2 separate regions of the Homo sapiens genome follow, and region 2 is linked to region 1. A link means that fine-mapping ties the variant in region 1 to the expression of a gene that starts in the linked region. Tissue or cell type: whole blood. Region 1 holds a variant in brackets; the other region holds the start of a gene. All regions are shown on one strand. Distances are between the middles of the regions.

What was found. PIP is the estimated chance that this variant, and not a neighbour inherited with it, causes the effect.
Region 2: it holds the start of STRADB, and the variant in region 1 is fine-mapped to the expression of STRADB in whole blood (TOPMed, PIP above 0.99).

What each region holds. Positions count from the first base shown.
Region 1 is chr2:201,499,550-201,507,549 of GRCh38, reverse strand. The region is part of intron 13 of CATSPERT (catsper channel auxiliary subunit tau); the gene reads left to right. LOC124906113 (a long non-coding RNA gene) reads right to left here. Exons shown (of 2, transcript XR_007088052.1): 2 at 4,862-6,917. Among named protein-coding and RNA genes, the nearest start is that of STRADB, 52 kb to the right of the region's middle. The variant T/A (reference allele first, on the strand shown) is at 3,759.
Region 2 is chr2:201,447,272-201,455,415 of GRCh38, reverse strand. It overlaps STRADB (STE20 related adaptor beta), which reads right to left and starts at 3,676. Exons shown (of 12, transcript NM_018571.6): 1 at 3,478-3,676; 2 at 564-670. The coding sequence starts at 575. TRAK2 (trafficking kinesin protein 2) reads left to right here and starts at 3,958. Exons shown (of 16, transcript NM_015049.3): 1 at 3,958-4,066. RefSeq lists a silencer at 3,106-3,785 and enhancers at 3,816-4,345, 3,749-4,603.

The DNA of each region.
Region 1 (8,000 bases):
TATTGGCAGGGAACACACATATCTGCTTTTTCATCATTTTCTTGGTAATTCTTATAAATTCTTATTGATGAAGTATTAGAATCATCTTGGCAAGTTCTATAACTCTGAGATTTTAATTGGGGTTGCATTGAATTATAGATTGGTATAGTTTGATATATTTACAAAATTTGCATCCAGGAAAATTCAGTAACCTCTATTTTCTTTATTAATATTTCATAGCTCCTGTTCATTTCTTATTAGATTGATTCTTTAGTATTGGATAGTTTCTGATGTAAACGTGAATGGGATCTTTTTAAGATTATATTTTTCAGGCAATATTTGGACATAGTGTTATATAATACCGTGTATATATTTGTATGTTGATTTTATATTGGTTCACTTTGCTAAACTCTGTTATTCTTAATTTTTCAGTTCTCTTGAATTTTTTTAAAGATAAGTGATCATGTCATCCATTAAGCACAGTTTTGTTTCCTGACTTCTAATATTTCTACCTGTTGTTTCTTTTTCTAATCTTGGCTAAACTATTAAGCAGTATTGGACAGCAGCAGTAAGAAAAGGCATTCTTGTTACAGATTCTGATGAATATTCTATTAGTGTCTCAATTTTAAGTGCAATGCATGAGGTAGGAAAGCACTTTTTTAATCCTATTCCTAGTTTGTTAGAAGATTTATTTGAAAATCAAGAATAAGGTTGATTGGGCTGGGCGCGGTGGCTCACGCCTGTAATCCCTAAACTTTGGGAAGCTGGGACAGGGGGATCACGACATCAGGAGATCGAGACCATCCCGGCTAACACGGTGAAACCACATCTCTACTAAAAATACAAAAAATTAGCCAGGCATGGTGGCAGGCACCTGTAGTCCCAGCTACTCGGGAGGCTGAGGCAGGAGAATCGCTTGAACCCAGAAGGCAGAGGTTGCAGTGAGCCGAGGTCAGGCCAGTGCACTCCAGTCTGGATGACAGAGCAAGACTCCGTCTCAAAAACAAAACAAAATGAAAAAGAATGGGGTTAATTTTTATCAAATGCTGACCCCTGTGGAGGAAATTACACAATTTGTCTCTTATAATTTGTTTATATAATGAATTACATGAATAGATTTTCTAATGTTGAACCATCTTTGTATTCCCATATAATTCCTCCTGGGTTATACTACACAGAATTTGCTATAACTTATTTAGGAATTTTGTACATCTATTCATAATGAGATTGACCTAAAAATTTGGCATCATTTATCTGTAAATGTTGACTTGGTGTTTTGTTTGTTTGTTTGTTTGTTTGTTTTTGAGACGGAGTCTCGCTCTGTCGCCCAGGCTGGAGTGCAGTGGCGCAATCTCGGCTCACTGCAACCTCCGCCTCCCGGGTTCGCGCCATTCTCCTGCCTCAGCCTCCCGAGTAGCTGGGACTACAGGCGCCTGCCACCGCCCCCAGCTAATTTTTTGTATTTTTAGTAGAGACGGGGTTTCACCATGTTAGCCAGGATGGTCTCGATCTCCTGACCTTGTGATCCACCAGCCTCGGCCTCCCAAAGTGCTCGGATTACAGGTGTGAGCCACTGCGCCCGGCCGGCTTTGTGCTTTTTTATAAGTAGATTAGTTTTTTAAAATAACCTTTTAATTTTGGAATAACTGTAGATTTACAGAACACTTGTAAAGATATTAGAGAGTTCCTATATACCCCTCATCCACTTTCTTCCATTGTTAACATCTTACATTACCATAGTACATTTGCCAAAACTAAGAAACCAACATTAGTACGTTACTATTACCTAAATCCAGACTGAATTTGTCCAATTTTTCCATTAATATACTCTTTGTGTCTCAAGATTCAGTACAGAGTACTACATTGCATTTTGTTGTCATGACTCTCCAGTTTCCTCTGGTTTTTGACAGTTTTTCTGATTTTCCTTGTTTTGTTGTTGTTGTTGTTGTTTTTAACATGACTTTGACAATCTTGATGAGCACTAGCCAGGTATCCTGCAGAATGTCCCCAATCTGTGTTTGTCTGATGTTTTTTCCATTATTATGTTTGCATTCTGAGTTTTTGGAAAAAATACATCAGTGGTGAAGTGCCCTTCTCAGTGCATCCTATCAGAGATTGATGATAGCACAGGATGACACTAGGGAAAAAGGCAGCATATGACTGATTGCTTAGAAAAGTGAACCTTCTGGGGGCCGGGTGCAGTGGCTCACACCTGTAATCCCAGCACTTTGGGAGGCCGAGGTGGGCAGATCACTTGAGGTCAGGAGTTCGAGACCAGCCTGGCCAACGTGGTGAAACCTCCTCTACTAAAAATACAAAAATTAGCCAGACATGATGGTGTGCACCTGTAGTTACAACTACAAGAATCACTTGAACCCAGGGGGTGGAGGTTGCAGTGAACTGAGATTGTGCCACTGCACTCCAGCCTGGGCAACAGAGAGATACTTCATCTCAAACAAAACAAAACAAAAAAAAAAGTGAACCATTTGGGGAGCCCCCAGCTAAATTGGTGTTCCAGTACCAGGGTGACTAGTAACCCTACCCTAGCAGGAAATGAAGGAGAACTGGATATGGGTGTTTACAGTGTGCCTTCACAGAATATTTCTTTTACCTGGCAGATGGCCTAATGCCTAGTAATCTGAGACCAGGGGGTCCTTTACACAGGAAACTTGTTTATACTAGCAGATGCCCTTTATCTCTTCTCTGACTTGTGTCCACTTTATTTCTCCTGACCAGTACACTGGCACTAGGAACCTTACCTTATGTTCCCTCCAGCATCCCAGGGAAAACCTGGCATGGAATAGCCCCTAGTTCTTCAGATGGAAGGTGCAAATTTTGCATACCACCACAATAGGAAACAAGTTCAAAGATTTTTTACTTATAGATCCTGGGCAAGGAGGGCACAGTGAGTCAGGAGGGCAGTCCGTCAGTCCCTGGGTCATGAGAAGCAGGAATGAAAAGTCAGACAGAGAGAGAGAGAAGAGCATGTGACAGAGAATAGGGCATGGGTCACTTTAAGTTTGTGGGTAAATTCCTGAATGGTCCATTTAAAGGAAGTGGTGCGAAAGCAGGGAACTCAGTCTGCCAGGTAGGAGAGATGCCTCTGAGTTCTAATCTCTGGCCGCCATCTTGAGCTATTTGGGCATGGTATAGAATTGAAAACTGTGTCAAGAGTGACCAAGCTCTATTTCTGGTATGAGAAATTTAAACTTGTATTCAAAATGGATGTCAAGGCAACATAAAATTGAAGAGTTCACTACAGGGACAAAGTGAGCCTTATAATTGTACTAGTTTACTGCCTGAAGGCAGCAGCACAGGAGCGGGAAGCCAAACAGAACTTGGAGATCTCATTGGGTTGAGGAGATAGAGTCTGAAATTTAGCAGACAGAGGCGAACTGGTAGGGTACCAGAAGAGAAAAAACTACAGCAGCAAGAAAGCTCCAGATAACTGTAAAGAAGTTCCTCTGGAGTCTTTGGCTGAATACTGATCTAAGCAGAAAATTACTGAAAGCAAGGAAAAGAACCACTGGAAAGATAAGGTAGAAAATTATAGGTACTCACACAGGACTTCCAATAATTCCATATTCTCATCAGCCAGAGTGGAAAGACTCATAACACATGAGAGTAAGTAGAATCCTTAGAAGGGTATCACCTTTGTAGAGAGGCTAAATCAGCCCCTTCTAAAGCTCCACTAAAAGTTTCTCTAGACAACCTTCTATGCAATAAATCTTAAAAGAACCCAACTAATTCCAAGTAATTTAAATGTGCATAAGAGCAAA[T/A]TCAAAACGATTTAAAAGAAAGAAAAAAAAATTTATCAATCAACAACATAAAATCCACAATTCCTAACATTCAATACAATGTTACCAGGTGTTCGGCCAGGCACAGTGGCTCACACCTGCAATCCCAGGACTTTGGGAGGCTGAGGTAGGAGGATTGCTTAAGGTCAGGAATTCAAGACCAGCCTGGGTAACAAAGCAAGACCCTGTGTCTACAAAATAAATTTTTAAAATTAGCCAGGTGTGGTGGTGCCCCCCTATAGTTCCAGCTACTCAGAAGGCTGAGGCAGTAGGATCACTTGAGCCCAGGAGTTAGAGGCTACAGTGAGCTGATTTTGCAACTGCACTCCCACTTGGGCAACAGAGTGAGACTCTGTCTCTTAAGTTAAATTTTAAAATTACCAGGTATACCAGCAATGTGTGCCTGAAGTCCCAGCTACTCAGGAGGCTCAAGCAGGAAGATCATTTGAGCCCTGGGGTTTGAATCCAGACTGAGCAACATAGTGAGACCTAGTGTCTAAACAATGAAATAATAAAATGTATTTTTAAAAAATACTGGGCATATAAAAAAGCAATAAAATATGACTCATTATGTAGGGAAAAATCAAATAATAGAAAAAGATCCTGAAATGACATCAATGATAGAACAGAATGTTAAGAGAGCCATTATAAATATAGTTCATACGTTCAAGAAGGTAGAGGAAACGTGAGTATGATGAGGAAAAAAATAGAGGGTATAATTAACCCCAAAGGAATTTTTAGAGATAAAAAATATCTGAAATAGTAACCTTTAAGAGATTAACAACATATTAGATGCTGCAGAAGATAAGATCACTGAACCTGAAGACAGAGGATTAGGAGCTACACAAAAATGAAACACAAATAGAAAAAAAAAACAACACAGTATCACTAACATGTGAAAATACAAAGTGGTATAACACACATGTAACTGGAGTCTGGGAGGGGAACTGAAAAATGATTTGAAGAAAATGGTCAAAATATTTTTAAGTTTGATGAAAACTATAAACCCACATATCTGAGAAGCTCAATAGATTCCAAGGGAATGAACCTAAAGAAAACCATGCTAATAATCACATTACTAAGAATCAATGATAAAGAGAAACCTTTACTCAGAGGGGCAAAAGGCACATTATTTACAGATTTAAATAAGAAATATTTACAGAGGAACAAATAAAAACAGACTTTTTTTTTTTTTTTTTTTTGAGATGGAGTCTTACTCTGTCGCCTAGGCTGGAGTGCAGTGGCACGATCTTGGCTCACCACAACCTCCACCTCCCAGGTTGAAGAGATTCTCCTGCCTCAGCCTCCTGAGTAGCTGGGATTACAGGCGTGTGCCATGACACCCAGCTAATTTTTGTATTTTTAGTAGAGACGGGGTTTCATCATGTTGGTCAGGCTGGTCTCAAACTCCTGACCTCGTGATCCTCCCATGTCGGCCTCCCAAAGTGCTGGGATTACAGGCATGAGCCACTGCACCCGGCCCAGACTTCTTATTAGACTATGAAAGGCAGAAGACTATGGAGTGACATCTTTATAGTAATGAAAGAAAATGAAACCTGTTCACCTAGAATTCATGTTCAAAACAGTAGAAACGTTTTTTGGAGTTTGTATTCACCCTTTCATCTGCTCCTAAGTACAGCAGCACTGTTGGTCTTGAGCAGCAGAAGCCTAGTTCCCAATTCCCTTTATGGAACTGGAGGGAACATAGTTTTATTTGCAAATTATTGTATATGTCCGTTCTAAGCTGGCTGGAGGATACCTGAAGGATGGACTTGCTTGTCTCTATCTCACATAACATGGAATGAGGGCAGGAAAAGCAGTGAGCAGTATTCATAAAAGCTATCTGGGGACTAAAAATCCACAGATAACTGGGTCAAGAGATTAAATCTAATTTCTTCACTTATAAGTCTATTCAAATTGTCTATTTCTACTTGTGTCAGTTTTGGTAGTTTGGCTTTTTTAAGAGATGTGTTTATTTCATCTAAGTTATCCAACTTGTTGGTGTACAAATGTTCATAGTATTCTTATAATCCTTTTGGTTTCTGTAAAATCAGTAATAATATCCCACTTCCATTTCTGATCTTAATAGTTTGAGTCTTTCTTTTTTTCTTAATCAATTTAGCTATAAAGGTTTGTAAATTTTGTTGACCTTTACAAAGAACCATCTTTTGGTTTCACTGATATTCTCTATCGTGTTTCTATTCTCTATTTTATTTACCTCCACTCTAATCTTTATTGTTTCCTTCCTTCTTTTAACTTTAGGTTTAGTTTGCTGCTCTTATTCTAATGTATGCATTAAGGAATGTATACATAGTTCCTTAACATAAAGTTAAGTTGTTAATTTGAGATCTTTCTTTTTTTTTTTTTTTTTTTTTTTTGAGATGGAGTTTCGCTCTTGTTGCCCAGGCTAGAGTGCAATGGCGTGATCTTGGCTCACTGCAACCTCCACCTCCTGGGTTCAAGCAATTCTGCCTCAGCCTCCTGAGTAGCTAGGATTACAGGCATGTACCACCATGCCCAGCTAATTTTGTATTTTTAGTAGAGACGGGGTTTCTCCATGTTGGTCAGGCTAGTCTCGAACTCCCGATCTCAGGTGATCCGCCCACTTTGGCCTCCCAAAGTGCTGGGATTACAGGCATAAGCCACCATGCCCGGCCTGAGATCTTTCTCTTTTTTAGTGTAAATGCTTATAGCCATAAATTTCTCCCCTTAGCATCGATTTTTCTGTGTCCCATAAGTTTTGGTATGTTGTGTTTTCATTTGTCTCAAGGTAGTTCCTAATTTTTCTTGTAATTTCTTCTGTGACCCATTGGTTTTTAAAGAATTTTTTGTTTAATTTCCAAATGTTTGTGAATTTTCTAATTTTCTTCTATTACTGATTTCTAGCTTTATTCTACTGTAAAAGAATAAATTTCAGTATGTGTAGAAGTTTTTCAGTTAAGAATCATGTTAAACATGATTTAACATGAGTTAATCATGAGTAACATGTTAAGCATGAGTAACAAAAACTTAGAAACAGTGCCTTAAATCGTAATATTGTGGTTTCATGACGTCATCAGGGGCCCAGATTCCTTTTCTTTATGGACAGCCATCTTCAGCATGAGCATGTTACTGAAGGGTAACACCAGATGGACTTTATATCTCCAGGCATCACATGTATTCCAGGCAGGAAGAAAGAAAAAGACAAGTTCAGTTACATACTTATCACCTAAGTCGGCCTCTGTGTTTTTGTTTTGTTTTTTATTTTTTGTTTTTATTTTGAAACAGAGTCTCACTCTGTCACTCAGGCTGGAGTGCAGTGATGCAATCTTGGCTCACTGCAACCTCCACCTCCCGGGTTCAAGTGATTCTCCTGCCTCAGCCTCCCAAGTAGCTGGAACCACAGGCGCGTGCCACCATGCCCGGCTAATTTTTTGTATTTTTAGTAGAGACAGGGTTTCACCGTGTTAGCCAGGATGGTCTCGATCTCCTGACCTCGTGATCTACCCACCTCGGCCTCCCAAAGTACTGAGATTACAGGTGTGAGCCACTGCACCTGACTGTCGGCCTCTGTTTTAAGACACTCAGAAGAGAGAGTTAAGATACTCTCTCAACAACTTCCAATTATGTCTAGTTGGCCAAAATTTTGTCACATGGCCACTCCTGTCTGCAAAGGAGGCTAGAAGATGTAGCTCTTTTGATAGGGGACATTTCTGCCCCTTAAAAAAATGTAAGTTCTTGAGATAATACATTTTAGGAAGGCAACTAGCATTTTCTGTCACAGGAATCAAGAGACTACTTAGGATACCACTGCTTGGGGAAACATGATGGTGGCTTGTTCTATAGTAGTAGGGGGGTTGATGGGAAAAAGTGATTGGATATATATATATCATATATAAATTATATATATTATATACTCAATATATATTAATATATAAATTATATATATATATAATTTTTTTTAGACAGGGTCTCACTCTGTTGCACAGGCTATAGTGTAGTGGTATGATCATAGCTCACTGCAACCTCCCACTCCCAGGCTCAAGTGATCCCCCACCTCAGCCTCCTGAGTAGCTGGGACCATAGGCTGCACCACCACACCTGGCTAATTTTTTGTATTTTTTGTAGAGACAAGGTTTTTCCATGTTGCTCAGGCTGATCTCAAACTCCTGGACTCAAGTGAGCCACCTGCCTCAGCCTCCCAAAGTGCTGGGATTACAGGTGTGAGCCACTGCAACTGGTCAT
Region 2 (8,144 bases), 52 kb after region 1:
AAAAACCACATTTTAATATAAGTATTCCCTATTCAAATATTATTATTATGTATAAAACAGGATGAAAGTCCTCAAGCTACTTAATCTAAAGTAGATACCACGGATCTAAATATAAATAGAAAACCAGTTGGCAGCTATACCTCATATATACATTGATCCAAATGATTTTATTTCGGTTAAGTCAAAGGGGTTATTTTTAATACTGTTTGGCTTGCTTTTGGTCAGATGGAAATTTGTAAAAGGAATTTCTGAAAGATTTAAAAGATAAGGCATAGCTAACTGGTGTGGGTGGCATATCAAAGTATAACACCTATGAGAAAAAGTAGATATGGGACAAAAGATTAGAATAATGAACATATTGAAGTATACGAGAAGTTCTTTATGAAAGAAAGAAAAACTCAATGAGAATGTAATTCATTTCTCAAGTCCAGAAGTCAATCAGGTCAAAACAATATCTCAGAGCATAAGAATATCCCATCAGAATATGCCTTTTATTATGGCTTGGCATTAACATCCAACTACTCTGACAGAACAAAATCAGATCTATATTTACAAAAACTTACCAAAAGAGACATTGAATCACTTTAGTTCACACAGAAAGTGACAAAAATCCATCTATTCCAAAGAAGGCTTTTGTTTTATCTTCCTTTCAAGATGCAGATATATCCTACTATAAAAAACAAAAGCAAAATAATTTAGATTCACATAAAAGTTCCTTAAAGAACCAGTTGCCTTAAACCCATCCAATATTTAGGCAGCTATTCCCTGATACCCAATATTTAGGCAGCTACTCCTTGACACAAGGAGACATTCCTGAAAAGTATCTTTAAAGAGCATTTATTTTTTACTGAACATTATTTGTGATCTGACATCACAACCAAGAAGCAGAGTGAAAACAAAAAGAAGTCCTGAATATTTCCAAAGCCTCAATATGTTTGCATTTCTCCTTCCCTATCTTTTCTATACTGTTTTTTGTTTGTTTTTTAAAGAACGCTGAGCAAATTTGAAAGCAATGTAGAAAACCAATTTTTGGCCCACTTTTGATATAAACAGTGTCACTTACAATAAACCCCAAGAATTTTCAATGGTTCCACATATTACAACTAAACTTTGAGACTTTCCAAAGCCCTTTCTTATTGGATTAATTACGTATTAAATCATTTGGGGTCCCTGACCAGCAAATATGGGAAAGAATCAGAATAACAGACTAGGAAATTAATTCAAGGAGATACAAAAGCACCATCCACGGTTTCCAGACCTTTACTAATAGAAAGGGTGGCAATCTTGTAAGTTTGTGGGTTCAGAGCATCCCTTTACATCTAACCAACATCATCTCTTTCATCTAAATTGTGCTTCATTATTTCAACTCCCCAAATTTGATGAACCCATCTACAAATATGTGAGCAGGATGAGAAAGGGAAGATTTTGTAAACCATAAAAACCATAAAGCAATATCCAATTTTATTGCTAAAGAAAGAGGTGAATTTATTCAGGATGTTCACTATGAACCAAAGGTAGAGATTGGGAGGAAGACGGACCTGAAAGGCTGTGATCATTTAGCCACCTACCATTCATTACCGTCAATTTAAAGCACTGGAGTTTGCTGTGCTGCAAAAGGAGGAAAGCAATGCCTGCCCTGCCAACCTTCCAGGGTGAATGAAATCAAATGAGTTACATCTCAAAGTGCCCCTAATTAGCAAACACTGTATCAGCTTGAACTATGCTTTGAAAGGTACACTCAAATGTACTGATGGCAGTACAAAACTATAAGGTTTATTTGGAAAGCAGGTTGTCAAATGTTTCAATAACCATGAAAATATTCATACTTTTTGACCCAGTAAAATTCCCCGGAGTGATCTATTCTAAGGAGATATCCAAGTAAATGAAGAAACTACACATCATAGTCAATACACTGTTAATCTGTTAACAGCCAAGTAATCATTACACAAGTGTTTAATGAGTGGTTACCATGGGTCAGGCACTGTGGACACCCGCTGGTAATCAGGGCAGACAAGACCCTGGCCACTTGTAGCTGACCTTCCCACAAGCAGAAGGGTTATGGATGTCATGATTAACCAAATTTTCTGGTTATCATGATTTTGTATCCTGCTTTTTTCACTCAATGTCAGCAAGTTGTTACTGATTTTGTCTTAATAATGTGAAACTCCATTACGTTGTCTATTTTTTTCTCTTTTTCAGAAAAGCTCAGAAGAAACAGACACAATCTGGTAAGAATTGTTAGTAATAAAAGGGTTGTCCCTATGGGGTGGTTTAATCTCAGAGATTTTTGCCTTAGATACACCAGACTATTAAGAGATAATTTTACAAGACATTTTGAGGTCAAGGCAGCAGCTGCACCCAGCAAAGGGGTGGGGGTGGGGGATTTGCTGTTATTATAATTTTCTCCGGCATGCTCTTTCACGAGATATGAATATAAACCCTTTCTTAAAAAAAAGTCATATTTAAGAGACTTATATTTCGTATTCACAAGTACATCAGTGCAGTCCCTTACACTTGTATCCAAAACGCTAATTACGATAAAGCTTTATAAGTAATTTCAGTTTGTTCCATAATAGAATGGTTCATGTGAAGACTTTGATCTGAAAGATTAACACTTTCTGTAGAAACCAAAGGGCGCATCTTCTAGAACACGGGTTTTGAGTTAATTTAGGCATTCAACAGAGGCCACTGTTACAGGGAATGCAAAAATGACCCGATGTAACTCTTTGTTGAGCTTTAAAATTACTGTAATTTTCAAAGTGATCTTGGGAACCCATAAAATCTTAACAAAGATCATAGCGACGCACAGTTCAGGAGAATTTTCCAAGCTTAGTGACTCATGCGTTCAACAAATCTTTACTGAGCGCCTACTGGGTGCCAGGCACCGTGCTAAGCAGGCGCCGTGTTACACATCCGTATCAAGTTTTGGGGAAAAGGTACTTGACAAAGACCCAGCAGGGAAAAACACAGCGTTGAATTGAAAAACCGAAGACAAAACGACACTCGAGTATTTAATTTTGTAAAAGGTTCCTTCCTAGTCCTGCTATGGGGGACTTTGCAGCGAACTTGCAGAAGGCGGCAGATAGAGCTGGGGTCTGAGGGTGTCTTCGATATGGCAACTCCCCAAGCCCGAGAGCGCGGCCAAAGGTGAGGGGTGCGGGGAGAGGGCGCCCGGGCGGCCTGGGCCCCGCGCACCTGGCACGGCCGGCACGGCCAACCCGGCAGGCACCACTGGGCGGGCTGCGAACCCGCGGCCCGGGCCCCGCTGAGCCCGAGCTGCACTGGCGCAGTGGCTGCTCGCCACCTCGGGCCGCATTCTTGCCACGGCTCCCGCCAGCCGCCGGTGCTCGGGCTGGAGGTGGGCTAGCGCGTTCTGGCCTCTGGCTTCCCGGGCGTGCGCGGACCAAGGCTCACTCCCTCACACGTCCCCCACCGGCCCCGACACCTTCCCTTCCCGGGCCTGCCTCCCGTCTTTACCCTAGCGGCGACCACGGCCAGCGACTCTCTTCAGGCTGCCAGCGGTGCGGACAGGGGCGGGCGCCAGAGCCCTGCTCGCGGAGGGGCGAGGCGAGCGCTCTAGGCCCGCTCCCGGCGCGGGGCGCGGGAGGGCGGCGAGGCCGCGACCGGGGCCGTGGGCTTGGAACTCTGCACCAGTCCCAGGCTACCCGCTGGGAACGCATTCGCCCCACCCGCGCCGGGGTCGCGGCCCCGCCTCCCTCCCCGGGGCTGGGCAGCGAGAAGGCGGGGCCTTCGAGCTTGAGGCGGGGCGGGCAGGAAACTACAATTCCCAGCAGGTCTTGCGCTGGGGCCGTGGAGGCCGCTGGGAGAGTGGCTCTCCTTTGGCTTCCCCAATTGTGTGGGGGCTGCCATTGACCCGGTGTCGCCGCAGAACCGAGGTCGCCGAGTGATGATGTTGTGAAGTCGCCCGCCTGTCCCTGCCACGCCCGGGCGGTTGCTGGCAGTGGGAGCAGCGGCAGCAGCTTCGGCTGCTGCTTTCAGGCTGCCGCTGCATTAGGGGCTTCCTGAGGAAGCGCGGGCGGACGACAGAGGATGCCGAACCACTCCAGTGAGTAAGCTGTCCGCGCAGAACCCGAACTTGCCCTTGACAACTTCCCCGGAAAGCGGAGGGACCTCCTCGTCCCAAGGTCCTCCGGTACCCGGAGGTCACGCGCGGACGTCGGAGCCGGAGGCTGGGTGCTGGAGGGCTGGGTCCGGGTCCCGCGGTGAGGCGTGGGTTGTTTCCTAAGTGTGGGTGCAAAGTAATGGGCGCTAGGCGCTGGCGTCGGTATTCAGCCCAGCTGCACATCTGAGGCTTGGCAGCTTCTCATAGCGCCTTATCCTCTGCCATACAGCATCCATCTGGAGCCCTGTCTTTTAGGATGAGTGGCTTTAGGGTCGGGCATTAAACCTTAAGCTTCAGTCGCCATCTGTGATGTAAGTGGGAGGAGAGGGTATTGGAAAGAGCTCTTTCTGGGTCAAATAGAGTTGGGCTTTTCTTGCAATTGATTTTGAGCCAGATGCCACATATCTTGAAAAAGAAAAACGGCTGACTTTAGTTTGAAGCGTAAATAATAGATATTCGCACATGTCCTTTTTAGTAGCAGCCCAAAAATTGAATTTCAACTTAAAAAAAAATCTGCGTCATAATAATAGGGATGTTACTTGCTCTTGCTCATGCACCTTTTGCTTAGACCTGCTGTTTCTACGTCAGAAAAAAAAAAAAAAAAGGTAACTTCACAGGATATTCATCAAGTTGATGGAATGGACCATAGGAACAAAAGGAACACTTTCAGTTCTTGGTCTCCGTAAATCTTCCCGACCTTTAGATCTTTGCTGTTGACTTGGAAGTCTGAGGTACAGTAGTCTCCAAATAGCAGGTTAATGGTGGTGACATGACACTTAAAAACAAATTGTGAAGGACATTTGGAGGTGAGAAAGGTCAGGGATGAAGACATTTTATCATCCTAGCAGTTATTCCAACTTTCTTTTCTTTTTTTTTTTTAAGACAGAGTCTCGCTCTGTCGCCAGGCTGGAGTGCAGTGGGGTGATCTCGGCTCACTGCAACCTCCGCCTCCCGGATTCAAGCGATTCTCCTGCCTCAGCCTGCAGAGTAGCTGGGACTACAGGCGCGCACCACCACGCCCAGCTAATTTTTGTGTTTTTAGTAGAGATGGGGTTTCACCATGTTGGCCAGGATGGTCTCGATCTCTTGACCTCATGATCCACCCGCTTTGGCCTCCCAAAGTGCTGGGATTACAGACGTGAGCCGCCACACCCAGCTCCAGTTTTCTATTTTTAAAATTAAGTAATGTCCAGCAAGTCTCAGACATTTAGCAAGCACATACCATGTGAAAGACAGTGTTTTGTTATCTTACACACTTATTCATATGATGGAAGAGGTTTGTTAGAAAGAACCAACATTTGGCCGGGCGCTGTGGCTCACTCCTGTAATCCCAGCACTTTGGGAGGCCAAGGAGGACAGATCTCCTGAGGTGGAGAGTTCAAGAACAGCCTGACCAACATGGAGAAACCCGTCTCTACTGAAAGGAAATACACCAGCCTGGCCAATATGGTGAAACCCCGTCTCTACTAAAAATACAGAAATTAGCCGGGCGTGGTGGCACGCGCCTGTAGTCCCAGCTACTCGGAGGCTAAGGCAGAAGAATTGCTTGAACCCGGAGGCAGAGGTTGCAGTGAGCCAAGATTGCACCCCTGCACTCCAGCCTGGGCAACAGCGAGACTCCATCTCAAAAAAAAAAAAAAATTAGCCAGGCATGGTGGCACATGCCTGCAGTCCCAGCTACTGAGGAGGCTGAGGCAGGAGAATCGCTTGAACCCAGGAGGCGGAGGTTGCGGTGAGCCAAGATCGAGCCATTGCACTCCAGTCTGGGCAACAAGAGTGAAACTCAGTCTCAAAAAAAAAAAAAAAAAAAAAGAACCAACATTTTAGTATTTGCAATCTGCCAGGCACCCCAGGTGGGAGCTCTTCATACTTTAGCTCACTTAATCACTTTAACAAACCTATCACACTAATCTGAGGCTCAAAGACTTGCTTATGTAACAAGGGGAGATTTAAATCTAGATCTGCCTTGCTTCCAAGTCACAGATCAGGTAACTAATACGTACTTCAGAAATTATAGACTTTAAAGGTTGAGTGGTTAAAGAGGATTGTCTAGTGTTATTGTCTAAGACTGGTTCCAACACACACCTTGGACATCTGGAATAAGTCCTGAACCCCTGCTTTAGTACTTTTGAACAAACTGATTCTCTCTGCCTACAATTCCCATTTCTTACTGAACTGCTCAGTAAGACCCGAAAAGCCCATTCCAAATCCATCTCACTTATGTAAGAAATTATAAGACTGGACTTTTATCAAAAGGTTCTTTTCAGTTTACAGGTTTTGTGAGTCTGCAAATAAAAATATGACCCTGCTGGGTGTGGTGACTCACACCTGTAATCTCAGCACTTTGAGAGCCCGAGGCAGGAGGATGACTTGAGACCAGCCTGTTCAACATAGCAAAACCCCATGTCTACCAAAAATAAAAAATAGCTGGGTGTGGTTGTTTGTGCCTGTAGTGCCAGCTGAGATCAAAGGATCCCTTGAGCGATGATGGCACCACTGCACTCCAGCTTGAGTGACAGAGTGAGACGCCATCTCTAAAAAAAATTAAAATACGAGCAGAGAAGTGTTATTCTCCACTGAAACTTTCTTTGCTTTAGTGCCCCAAATATGTTAAATACCAGTATAAGGAATGAGACAGATAATGTCTTATTTCATGTTTATTGTGAGCTCTCATTATATTATCTGTACCAGTTTTGAACCTCTTTAGTTACCATCCTGTTTAGTTGGTAAGAAATAGGAGGCAAAAAGGTAATAGTCACATTTAAATGACTTAGTAATTAAAAGAACTAAATTATTCATAGTTGAGTCATTATCTGTTCAGATCTGCAGTGTTCTTATAATAATAGGAAACATTTATGTAATACTATGTGTTAGATAATGTTTTACCTATATTAACTTATCCTCACAATAGCACTGAGGTGTTTTTATAGATAGGCAACTAAAGCAAAGAGAAGATAGTAAATATACCAAAGGTCATGTAGCTACTACATGGTAGTACTGAGTGTCAGAGAAGACAAGATCAAAATCTGTAATCTAACATTTATTGAGAACCTACTGTGTACCAGCCCCACAGCTGGGTGCTTTCATTATGAGTTAGTCATTTGTCTTTACAACTACCTTATTTAAAATGGAAGTTCAGCATGTAATGACTTGCTCAGAGTCACAGATAAGTAAACTGTGGAATCAGGATTTGAACCCATGCTTGTCGTACTTCAAGGTTCCTGTTCTTTCTTTCATTTTCCTTCAGTGATCAAATCTTTATTAAACACCTTCTGTGTGCCACACACTGTGCCAATGCTAGGAATTTAGTCTTTGCTCTTAAGGAATGTAGTTTGAAGAAGGAAAGAGACAATTAACATAGTGTGTTGAGCAATGGGATCACAGCTTGCCGAGGTACTTTGGGAGCACAGAGAAAGAACACTGAAGTTACTCTGGAGTGGGAAGGCTTGGACCAGTCTTGGGAAAACAAATGGGAATTAGCCTGGGCAGAGAAAAGGGGAAGGGGTTGTTATGGGCTGAATTGTGTCCTCCCAAAATTATATTGAAGCCCTAACAGCCGTAACCTCAGAATGTGACTGTATTTGGAGACAGGGCTTTGGGGTGATTAAGTTCAGATGAAGCCGTTAGGGTGGGTTCTAATCCAGTCTGACAGTTTTCCTTATAAGAAGGAAATTTGAGCACAAAAAGAGACACAGGAGTTGCACACACAAAGGAAAGACCATGTGAGGATTCATCAAGAAGACCAAGGAGAGAGGCCTCAGGAGAAACCAACCTGCCAACACCTTGATTTTGGACTTCCAGACTCCAGTATTGTGAAAAAATAAATTTCTGTTGTTGAAGCCACCCAGTCTGTGGTAGTTTTTTATGGAACCCCTAGCAAACTAACAAATAGGTGTTCTAGGCAAAAGGAATGACATACAAAAAGGCTTTAAGCTGTGGTTAGGTGATAGAAGTTGACATACAAAAAGCCTTTAAGCTGTGGTTAGGTGATTGAGGTTTTTTGGTGAAGAGATAAATGTTG